Homo sapiens: one gene and its partners. The protein of the gene in region 3 purifies or fractionates together with the protein of the main gene of each other region. This does not show direct contact. Each region holds a gene or a part of one and is shown on either strand. Other genes may lie near its edges.

Region 1 (3,500 bases), on a different chromosome or scaffold from region 3:
TTTTTTTTTTAAATGTTCACAAACTGGACTTATCAGTGAGTATTGTCATTAGTAGTAATAATAAATGCTTACACTAACACTGTTGATTCTGTGGTCTCCTTCAGTTCACAACTGGTAATCTCCCACATCTATTCCATTTCTAAGCTTTGAATTTAATTGCCTGAAATTATACTGTACCATAAAATTACCATGAGCCATATTTGCATCGTAGTTTGCTACAGTTTGTACTGGGCATGGTAACTTTTCTTAAACTCTTAAAAACATTAAGAATTGCTGTTTAAGCTTAAACTTCACAGTTAAGGTCTTGAAAGTTAAGAATTTGAATAAGAGAAACAAAAATTCTAGCTGAGGTTTGAACTTTATATCAATAGAAAATACTATTGCCTATTGGAGGTGCTGACACATAAGCATCTAAAGATCAGGAAGACTAGTCTGGACAGGATTCTTGATCCAGAAGTTTGCCTAGACAGCATCTTTCACATCCTCAAAGGTGATCTAGACGTTTTTTTTTTTTCAACTTTAATTATGAAGGGGAAAAAAGGATACTTGGCATCAGGCTGTCCTTTCTTTCCGTAAGCCCATTCTGGTTCAATCTCCAGTCGAGCCTTTTCTCCTTTACTCATAGTCAAGAGAGCTTCATCCCACTAAAGGCAAGAACAAAATAAAAACTAATGGTATTTTGCAAAAAGCACATGCAATACCAGGACAGTCAAGACAAGATTGTATGTTAAAACAAACACAGAATCTATTACTATAGATTTCACTATATTCTAAGATAATGTACTTCAGTGAGTCCCTAAATCTTTGTCTTCCATTTCTTCAATAGAAAAAAAAGGGTATTTTAAGCAGGGCTTTTTTAATGTGAAAAGAACCTTTTGGGGCTCATACCTATAATCCCAGCACTTTGGGAGGCCGAGGTGGGCAGATCACTTAAGGTCAGGAGTTTGAGACCAGCCTAGCTAACATAGTGAAACCCCATCTTCTACTAAAAATAAAAAAATTAGCTGGGTGCGGTGGTGGGTGCCTGTAATCCCAGCTACTCGGGAGGCTGAGGCAGGGGAATCACTTGAACCCAGAAGGTGGAGGTTGCAGTGAGCCAGGATTGAGCCACTGCACTCCAGTCTGGGCAACAGAGTGAGACTCCTTCTCAAACAAACAAACAAAAAACAAAAAAAAAACTTTTTGTAAACTGTAACATGCCATACATTATGAAAACCAGTTAGTTATTAGCACCATCATAAACCTGCAACACTTTTACATCACAGGACAAACGAGTTTATTTTTATTGGAATACACTGGCAAGTACTCACTGTAAAATTGTTTTAAGATTACCAGATTGTAATAGTGGAGTCACGTTGGCACATAAAATACATTTTTTTCTTTTTTTCTTTTGAGATGGAGTTTCGCTCTTGTTGCCCTGGCTGGAGTGCAATAGCGTGATCTTGGCTCACTGCAGCCTCTGCCTCCCGGGTTTAACCGATTCTCCTGCCTCAGCCTCCCTAGTAGTTGGGATTACAGGCATGCCCAGCTAATTTTGGAAATACAATTTTTAAAATGTTACGGCACTAAGATCTTTTGCAAAAGGTAAAACTAACTTTTCAAAGAAACAATAAAAGTCTTCTGGGTTGGCCTCTCCATATTTTCCAAATTTGGATCTTAAAGCTAGTTTCCACAAACAGTTAAATCCACATCACCAAAGGGATAATATTCCTAATATTATATGCTGTATTGAAATGCAACAATCATATAAAGCACAAGGGACAAAGTTAGGGTGGTCACATTTGGAAAATAAGAATATGGTAGACTAGCCGGGCAAGGTGGCTCGTGCCTGTAATCCCAGCACTTTGGGAGGCTGAAGATGAAGAGGGCGATCACTTGAGGTCAGCACTCAAGACCAGCCTGACCAACATGATGAAACCCCATCTCTACTAGGAATGCAAAATTAGGTGTGGTGGCGCATGCCTGTAATCCCAGCTATTCGGGAGGCTGAGGCAGGAGAATCGCTTGAACTCAGGAGACAGAGGTTGCAGTAAGCCGAGATTGCACCATTGTACTCCAGCCTGGACAACAAGAGCAAAACTCCGTCTCAAAAAAAAAGAATACGGTAGACTAGAAGAAATTTACCAGTATGCAAATAAGTTACAGAAATAGAAAAATGGCCCAATTTGATAATATACTTGCTATCAACTTGGTACGGGCAGGTAACAATTTTTTTTTTTTTTTTGAGATGGAGTCTTGCTCTGTTGCCCAGGCTGGAGTGCAGTGGCGTGATCTCAGCTCACTACAACCTCCACCTCCCAGGTTCAAGCAATTCTCCTGCCTCAGCCTCCCAAGTAGCTGGGACTACAGGCAAGTGCCACCATGCCCAGATAATTTTTTGTATTTTTAGTAGAGACGGGTTTCACAGTGTTAGCCAGTATGGTCTCGATCTCCTGACCGACCTTGTGATCCACCCACCTCGGCCTCCCAAATTGCTGCAATTACAGGCATGAGCCACCACGCCTGGCTGGGGCAGGTAACAATTATAAGTTATGCTCAACTAAACCTTTAGTTTTAAGATGTTTTATATTCTGTATATGATTGTCTGAACCATATCTTAGGACCTACTGATTGTACAGAGAGTAATATATTGAAGGTTCCTATAACTGCATTTAAATAGGCATTTCAGTTATTGATGTCTGATGTTCTGAGAATAACAATTTAAAACAAACAATGGGCACAATGGGCAGGCCTTAGCATGAAAACCTGATTCATAGAAGGTGACAGTCTGCCCTACTCTTTTATCTTCTTTTGTACAGTATAATGGTCAGTACGGGTCAAGCCTAACTTCCTCTTTTCTCAAAGTTTCTTTCTGTTATCTCTCACATATAAGTGTAGGTTAAAGCATGCTCATGTTTGAATGATTTTCTGGTATTGCAGCCTATGTTGTATGAGGTGAAAAGGCTGCAGAAACAAACTCTGCTTCTGTGAATACTTCAGTGGGACAGATATTTTACCTTTGCAAATTATATGTAAATGGTACAACAGTTATAAGACATTTTACAGGAACCTTAAATTTAGAGGGCCAAACATTCTGACAAAGACTTACTTTATGAAGAAAAATAATAAAATGGGTACACATGGAAGGGACTAATATTTAAGCCCCTACTGTATTAGGTACTTCAAGTTATGCTCATTTAATCTTCTAAAAACCTTGAGGTAGGCAGTACTGTCCTCATTTTATATGTAGCGAAACTGAGACCGAGATAACTTGTGCAAGATCAGCTAACAATGATTATACCCAATCTGTCAGACTCCAAAGTCTGTTTCCTTTGTATTATATCCCCAAACCTAATTCTTTACAGCACCATACCAGAAGCAGCATATGCCAGAATATCTACTGATTCATTGGCATTCTTTACTTACTCCTCTGATAACTTTGCCTACTCCGACCTTAAAACTTAAAGGCTTGGCATTTTTCTTCTTCTTTGCACCTGTAAAACAGATTTTCCTTATCATTA
Region 2 (3,500 bases), on a different chromosome or scaffold from region 3:
GGTTTCAGCACAGAACCTGAATGCCAGGAAAAATTCCTGGGCCAAGAAGCTAAAGCTAAAGAAACCTTCCTTTTTTCAACGTTTTTTTTTCTTTCAAACTGTAGGGTCACTTTTGATTGAGGCAAAGGGGTCCTACTGTAAGTGGAAAAGACTCACTCCCCTAACATAAGTTTTCACTGTGGTGGGATGGTGCCGCCCGATATGCTTGATATGCTTTTCCTTCCACATGTTAAGCTAGGAAACCTAACAGGATGTCAGCAGGGCAGTTAACTCTGGACTCAGAGCCCTCAAGGGCATGTGGCAGAACCTCATGGACATCACAAGACCATCAGTCTGAATCCAGGTCGTGGGGGCTGTCATAGCCGAACTCCTTCTGCACATCCAGAGGGTACTTGCTCCACATCCGCTGTCTGCTGCTGCCTCTTTCCTCCTCACTCAGGCTGTTGTAGTCAGCAGAGCCTAGAATGACATCCCGGGAGTGGATTCTAAATGTGATTTTCCTAGGCTACTGCAGGAGCCCCTTCTCTTCTCAGAAAGGTCTGTTTTTGTTCCCGATTGTAATGCAAAATCCTTGCTCAATAAATAAAAAAGAATATAGAATTCTTTTTTTTTTAAAGAAGGAATCACTTTCCTATCATCTAAACCAAGTTCCTTCACACTGGAGTATTTTGTCACTTCTCCCCTCCGTGGAGTATTTTGTCACTTCTCCCCTCCGTATAGGATTTTTTGTTGTTGTAAGAGTTGTAGTCATATTGTAAATATTTTTGTACCTTTCTCCTTTTAACGTGTTATTGACAAACCTCCCCAAAAGAATATGCAATTGTTTGATTCATTTCTCTGTTATCAGACACCAATAAATTCTTTTTGTTGGGCCTTCTTCTCTCTTCTTTAATATAGTTACTACGGGAATTATGTTGTCAGAGCATCTTTCTTCTTCCCCCAGGTATTATGTCTGTGTTGCATCTTTCTCAAAACAGTTGTACATGCAGCAGTTTTTTGAGAAGTTAGATAACTGATTTGTGAAAACTCTGGGCTTATTCCTACTGGCAAACCTCTCTCTTCATTGGTTTCTTGACTGGGGCAGGGGAAGAGACAATGAGCTACATATTTTACATAATCTCAACCACTAAAATTCATGCAGAACCATCTCATTTGGAGAGAAAATGAGGCTCAGTGAGGTGAAGTAACTGCCCAAGAGCCACAGCAAAGTAATGACAACTACAGATTTGAATCCAGGCCTGATGGATTATTACACCCCCAGGAGGCCCCTGGGAAACACTGGTCTTTGGGTCTCCTACAGCATGGCTCAGTTGCGGCTGGGCTGCTGGCGCTCAATGACAGAGAAGGAAAGGCAATTAAGATGCACCTGTCAACTATGCCTGCACCTCAGTCTCAGATCCTACCAGTCCCTCCCGGTCTGGGGCTGCCACCCACCTCTGGAATCCTCATCTCCATCACTGCTCTCCTCCTCTGGGTACTCATTGCGCCAGTTATTCTCACTGTTCTCGTCATCTTCATCGTCGTAAATGTCCTCTGGTTCTTGATCATCATTCACCTACACATCTCAACACAAACATGAGTCCAAGTCAAAACCTCTAAGGTTATGCTCTGGGGGAAGTTGTTAGCATACCAGCTTGAAGAGATATCATGTAAAAGTGCCCTGTGAAAAAACTGCAGACTAGTAGTTTGACTCCATTGCACAAGAGGCTATGAGAGGGAGATAATAGCCCCCTTCCACTCAGAGCCCAGCTCCACAATGATAGGACATGCTGGACCCCATGAGAAGGGAACACAGGGAAAAGAGGAGTGATGGCTCTGAGCGATTCCTTCAAATTCCAAAGGTCAAAACCAAAACCCAAGCGTAAGAGGTGCGGAAAGGCAGGAGGAAGGGCCATGCAGTGGTCCAAGGTGGGTACCTGACTGCAAATCTGTCCTAATGCAGGTGCAGGATGCAGTGCTTCTTGATTATAGTCTGAGCATGACCATTAGGTGCCACCTTAAGTTTTCTTGTTAAGCATTTTAGAATTTGAGAATAGGCTGGGCGCGGTGGCTCACGCCTGTAATCCCAGCACTTTGGGAGGCCGAGGTGGGTGGATCACTTGAGGTCAGAAGTTTGAGACCAGCCTGGGCAACATGGTAAAACCTTGTCTCTACTAAAAATACAAAAATTAGCCAGGCATGGTGGCATGCACCTGTAGTCCCAGCTACTTGGGAGGCTGAGGCAGGAGAATCGCTTGAACCCAGGAGGCGGAGGTTGCAATGAGCCAAGATTGCACCATTGCACTCCAGCCTGGGTGACAGAGCGAGACTCCATCTCAAAAAAAAAAAAAAAAAAGATAATGGTGTCAGCTAGGTGTGGTGGCTCACACCTGTAATCCCAACACTTTGGGAGGCCAAGGTGGATCACTTGAGCCCAGGAGTTCAAGACCATAAGACCAGCCTGGACAACATAGTGAGACCCTGCCTCTACAAAAAAATCAACAAAAATTGGGCATCATGGTGCATGCCTGTACTCCTGGCTGGCTGCTTGGGAGGCTGAGATAGGAGGATTGCTTGAGCCTGGGAGATAGAGGCTGCAGTGAGCTCAGATAGCACCACTGCACTCCAGCCTGGGTGACAGTGTGAGACCTTGTCTCAAAAAAGAAAAAAAAAAAAGAATAATGTCAGGACGTTAGCTTTCTTCATCCGAGGTTTCTCTACTTCTAAGGTACGAATTAAAAAATAGATTTTGTTGTCACTCATGTTAAGAATTTCTGATTTTATCGTCTTTATCTTATCATAAGCCCCATATACATATTTCCCCCCTAAGAATGGATAGCTATAAACAATAAAGGTGATGTTGCAAACCTTGTAAAATATTCATTAATGTAAAAATGATCAATCTAAGATGATCTTTCCCCAAATTCCCTGTACTATAAAGTCAGGTTCCTAAAAGGCACTTAGAATAATTTCTTCCTTTTCAGGAGGAAAAGAACTAAGGACAATGTTGTTCGGGAGTGGAGCCCAGGGAAGCAAAGCATTCTGATTAGATTAAGAGCTTAGGATGCCTCATGCCCCGTCTGCTCATGGGCCCCCTTACCAGCTCCCATTCTTGGCTGTAGGGCTGCACGGAGAGGATGTTCTCAATCCAGCCTGGAGTGGCCGTCTCCAAGTAGTAAATGTCATACACATAGTCATCGTGTTTTTGTTCTTCCTGGCGCCTGACTCCTGGTCCATCCTCAGACACAGTCAATCGCTCACGGATCAACTCTACAGAATTGCAGAGGATCACATCTGGGTCAGATGTCTGTAAAGAAACCACAGATTACACACACACGCATGACCCAAAACATGATGTTCCAAGAGGAGGAACCTATGAGTTGGGTGAAGGAAGGCTCCCTACAGTTTTTTTTGAGACGGAGTCTCACTCTGTCGCCCAGGCTGGAGTGCAGTGGCGTGGTCTTGGCTCACTGCAACCTCCGCCTCCCAGGTTCAAGCGTTTCTCCTACCTCAGCCTCCCA
Region 3 (3,500 bases):
TGGTGCTTTTTGCACTTGGGAGAGTTGATGAGGCCTTGAGAGAGTGTTGTGGGAGCCAGCTAAGATTGTGGGGGTAGAGGAAGGTTCCCTTAGGGAGACTGAGACCAGTGGGAGTTAGGTACCCAGTTGGGCGAATAAAACTTTGACCTAAAAGTGAAGGGTTTTTCAGGAAAAAATGCTGTAGATTTTGAAGGAAATTCTAAAAGAGAGTTTAAAGTGTTTTCGCACAGAGGCGTCATCCTTAAGGCAAATGAAAAGTTTGGAGATCACTCTCTTAAAATCACATTCAGCTAGTCACATGATACCTTATGTGTGATGTGCTGGAACATGCCATAAACACCACAGAAATTGATGGCATTGTCAGCTGTTACACAGTAGGCTTGGCCTCTGGGATCCTGCAGACTTGTCGTGTGGGGTAACATGAAGAATCGTTTCCCTTGTTGAAGGTATACTGTTGTTGTATGAACAGGATGCCCTGAAATATACAGCAGTGTCCCATGGTTGACCTTAATGATTTTAAAGTCAAGTGAGATTTAAGGGTGTTTGAAGAGGGCGAATAGGGGTTTAATTGTAAATATGTTCTTACGTTTAAGACCAGATGGGCTTTTATTGTGTATATGGCTTTTTTTTAATTACTGGGGTTTGAAGAAGACCCTAGTAACACTTTTGTTCAGTTGGGCTCTTGTGTGTTCTGACCAAGGAAGACAAGAAGGTAAACACAAAAGTGTTACTAGGGTCTTCTTCAGTTCACCTGTTACTATATCCCTATTCCTTATAAACACAAGTATGCCCATTTCCCTAAGGGATGGGGGCGAGGGATTGTAAAGAAATACAGAATTTTATTTATTTTTTTCTAAGTCCAAAAGAGCTCTTATGGCAGGGTATATTCTCATAGTGGAACAAAATGGCCTAAGATGGCATTTTAAAGTAATCTTCATGAAGAATGGTGGTTACCATTTAAAAACATTTTATAGACAAGGATAGGAGATAGTTTGTATGACAAGGAAATATTTTATATAAAATATTGGCAGTTCACTGAGAGTAAATTGAACAGTGCTAGAATACACCATATATACACCATGGAAATTGGAGGTCTTGTCAGTAAAATGAGAAGACACTGACATGCAGTAGCTAGATATAAACCACATTTAGTTGTATTCTAAAATTGGAAAAGAATACCTGTTCTTTATGTGAGATTCTTATCCTTCCAGTAAACTGAACATGTCGCTCTGTTAGAAGCACCTCATTAACCACGCATCTGGGGACAGTCAGCCTTCCTATCAGCTCTGAGTTTTTCATTCAAAGTTAGAAAGCCAAGCAGTTCCTTACTGTGGCTTGCAGTCTATGCACCTGCGAAATGCTGGTGTGCTATATGCTGGACTGTGACATTTCATATACCAAAATAAAAGTCTTTACGTAGTCCCAATTTACTGAGAAAAAATGTAGATTGTCTTTAACTTCCATCTTTTTTTGATCCGCACCCCCTCCCCAGCTTTTGACCTCTTTTGTTGTGTCTACTGTGATGTAATTTTGAGCTCAATTGGATATTCTAGTTGGTTGCATAGCAACTAATTGGGGTTTTTTTCCTTGTATAAGTAATACATCTTCGTTTAAGAAAAATTAGATATAGATAGGCCAAAAAATTGTAGGTATAGACAAGCAAAAAGAAGATAGACATCATACATGCCTAACGTACCATCTAGACACTTTAGTGTATTATAGTCTACCAGAATGTTTAAATTTTTTCTAAACTTGGTTCATGCAAATAATCCAAATGCTAGCTAGCTTGTTGCTTTTTTTTTTAGAAAAAAAATACAGTCAACATCTTTGTGTGTGTCCTTATTTTATAGACTCATTATTAATGTCTGCATAGATCATAATTTAAACATCCCTCTCAGGTTGTTCACAGGGATTTTGGCTGTTTTAAATACTGCTGAAATGAGCATCTTATAATGTGATTTTTTTTTCCATCTGCCAGATTGCTTTTCAGAATGGTTCCCGTCTTTAAATACCCACCAGTAGAATATTGGTGTTTCCTTCCTTAATGCCAGCAGTCGTGCTACCTAAACACATTGGAGAACCACTAATAGAGATCCGTTCCAGGCTGGGCACAGTGGCTCGTGCCTATAATCCTAGCACTTTGGGTGGCAGAGGAGGGTGGGTCACCTGAGGTCAGGGATTCAAGACCAGACCGGGCAACATGGCGAAACCCCGTCTCTACTAAAAATACAAAAATTAGCCAGGTGTGGTGGCAGGCACCTGTCATCCCAGTTATTCTGGAGGCTGAGGCAGGAGAATTGCTTGAACCCCGGGGACAGAGTTTGCAGTGAGCCAAGATAACACCACTTCACTCCAGCATAGGCAAAAGAGCGAGACTCCATCTCAAAAATAAAAATAAAATAATAAAAAGTTCTATTAATTTAGAAACATTATTTTAAAATAATGGGTAGAAGATTTGAATACTGGTTAACTCAGAAGAATGGAAATTGCAAGGATGGCAGGAATTACTTTCTATATTTTGGGATTATTTCACTTACCATAATAACCAGTATTGTTCTAATTAAAAGAATTGACAACTCAGAAAGATCTTTAATTCCTCCATACCCTTTCCTCCTTTTATGGCAGAGACAGCTGGTATAATTGGAGAGCATCGCCCCACCAGTTAGGTAAAGTTGATCTTTTTTCATAATAGCTAGGGGAGTGGCAAATGAGCAAATTGAAGAGAATGAAAGGAAAAAAAATGTTTCCATCTCCTGTGGCCCCCAGCTCCAATCCCCAGGGATATTCCCATGACCTAGACTCATCATAACTTAAAGAAGGACCTCATAGGCATTTTGCCATTTAGAACTTAAAATGTGTTTTGTTTTTCATAGAGGTAGTGTTATAAATCATTGTTATATCCTCCAGTCAGATCTGAAAAGGTATTTGGCTGCAATATAGTTCAAATTTTTCAATGAAAAAGTAGTAGGAAACTACTGTTTGCTGGTAACTGTAGAAAACAAATATGAGTTAAGTAGGAGGTAGTATGGATTTTTCATTTTTAAGTGTTTACCTTAAATTTGTGTTTGAGAAAAGGCAAGTTTAATTGGAGCATGAGGGAAGAAGAGGAGTGAATTTGGCCCCAAAAGTTAAACTGTCCATCTTCAAGCAGAAGGCCAGTTAACTCTTGGATCAAATAGATCCCTCAGATTTAAGCACAAATGAACAAGTGCCTGCCTAACTTTCTTCATTAGATAGCAGCTCTGGGAGGATTTGAGATATAAGAAGAAACTAGGGCCTTTTCTCCTTTGATTAGGACCTCTGGTTTATTCTGAATCTAGATTGGGAAGCTGTGGGATCATCTTGACCCCAGCTCCACTCACTGTCTCAACTACACTCTTCCAAAGCTGTTATCTCCTTTGCAAGGCAGTCTAGATCTCTATACCCAGGAAGGAATGAAAAGAGATGAGGCTTAGTTACCTCTGTGGAGATCCACTGAGAACCCCAGAGTTGATATAAAG

The links. The genes of interacting proteins can lie anywhere in the genome.
Region 1: the proteins of ANP32B (region 3) and FKBP3 purify together in Homo sapiens (affinity purification with mass spectrometry, with the first as the bait; one large-scale study listed by BioGRID). This does not show direct contact.
Region 2: the proteins of ANP32B (region 3) and SLC7A6OS fractionate together in Homo sapiens (co-fractionation; one large-scale study listed by BioGRID). This does not show direct contact.

What each region holds. Positions count from the first base shown.
Region 1 is NC_000014.9:45,117,482-45,120,981, forward strand, and holds part of FKBP3 (peptidyl-prolyl cis-trans isomerase FKBP3), read right to left. Parts: intron 3,474-3,500; coding exon 3,406-3,473; intron 645-3,405; coding exon 547-644; intron 1-546. UniProt on the Homo sapiens protein: FK506- and rapamycin-binding proteins (FKBPs) constitute a family of receptors for the two immunosuppressants which inhibit T-cell proliferation by arresting two distinct cytoplasmic signal transmission pathways. PPIases accelerate the folding of proteins.
Region 2 is NC_000016.10:68,300,947-68,304,446, forward strand, and holds part of SLC7A6OS (probable RNA polymerase II nuclear localization protein SLC7A6OS), read right to left. Parts: intron 3,287-3,500; coding exon 3,080-3,286; intron 1,564-3,079; coding exon of another isoform or gene 1,556-1,563; coding exon 1,435-1,555; exon of another isoform or gene 1,431-1,434; intron 874-1,430; exon of another isoform or gene 460-873; coding exon 329-459; 3' UTR 1-328. UniProt on the Homo sapiens protein: Directs RNA polymerase II nuclear import.
Region 3 is NC_000009.12:97,986,341-97,989,840, forward strand, and holds part of ANP32B (acidic leucine-rich nuclear phosphoprotein 32 family member B), read left to right. Parts: intron 1-305; exon of another isoform or gene 306-475; intron 476-1,179; exon of another isoform or gene 1,180-1,463; intron 1,464-2,625; exon of another isoform or gene 2,626-3,500. UniProt on the Homo sapiens protein: Multifunctional protein that is involved in the regulation of many processes including cell proliferation, apoptosis, cell cycle progression or transcription.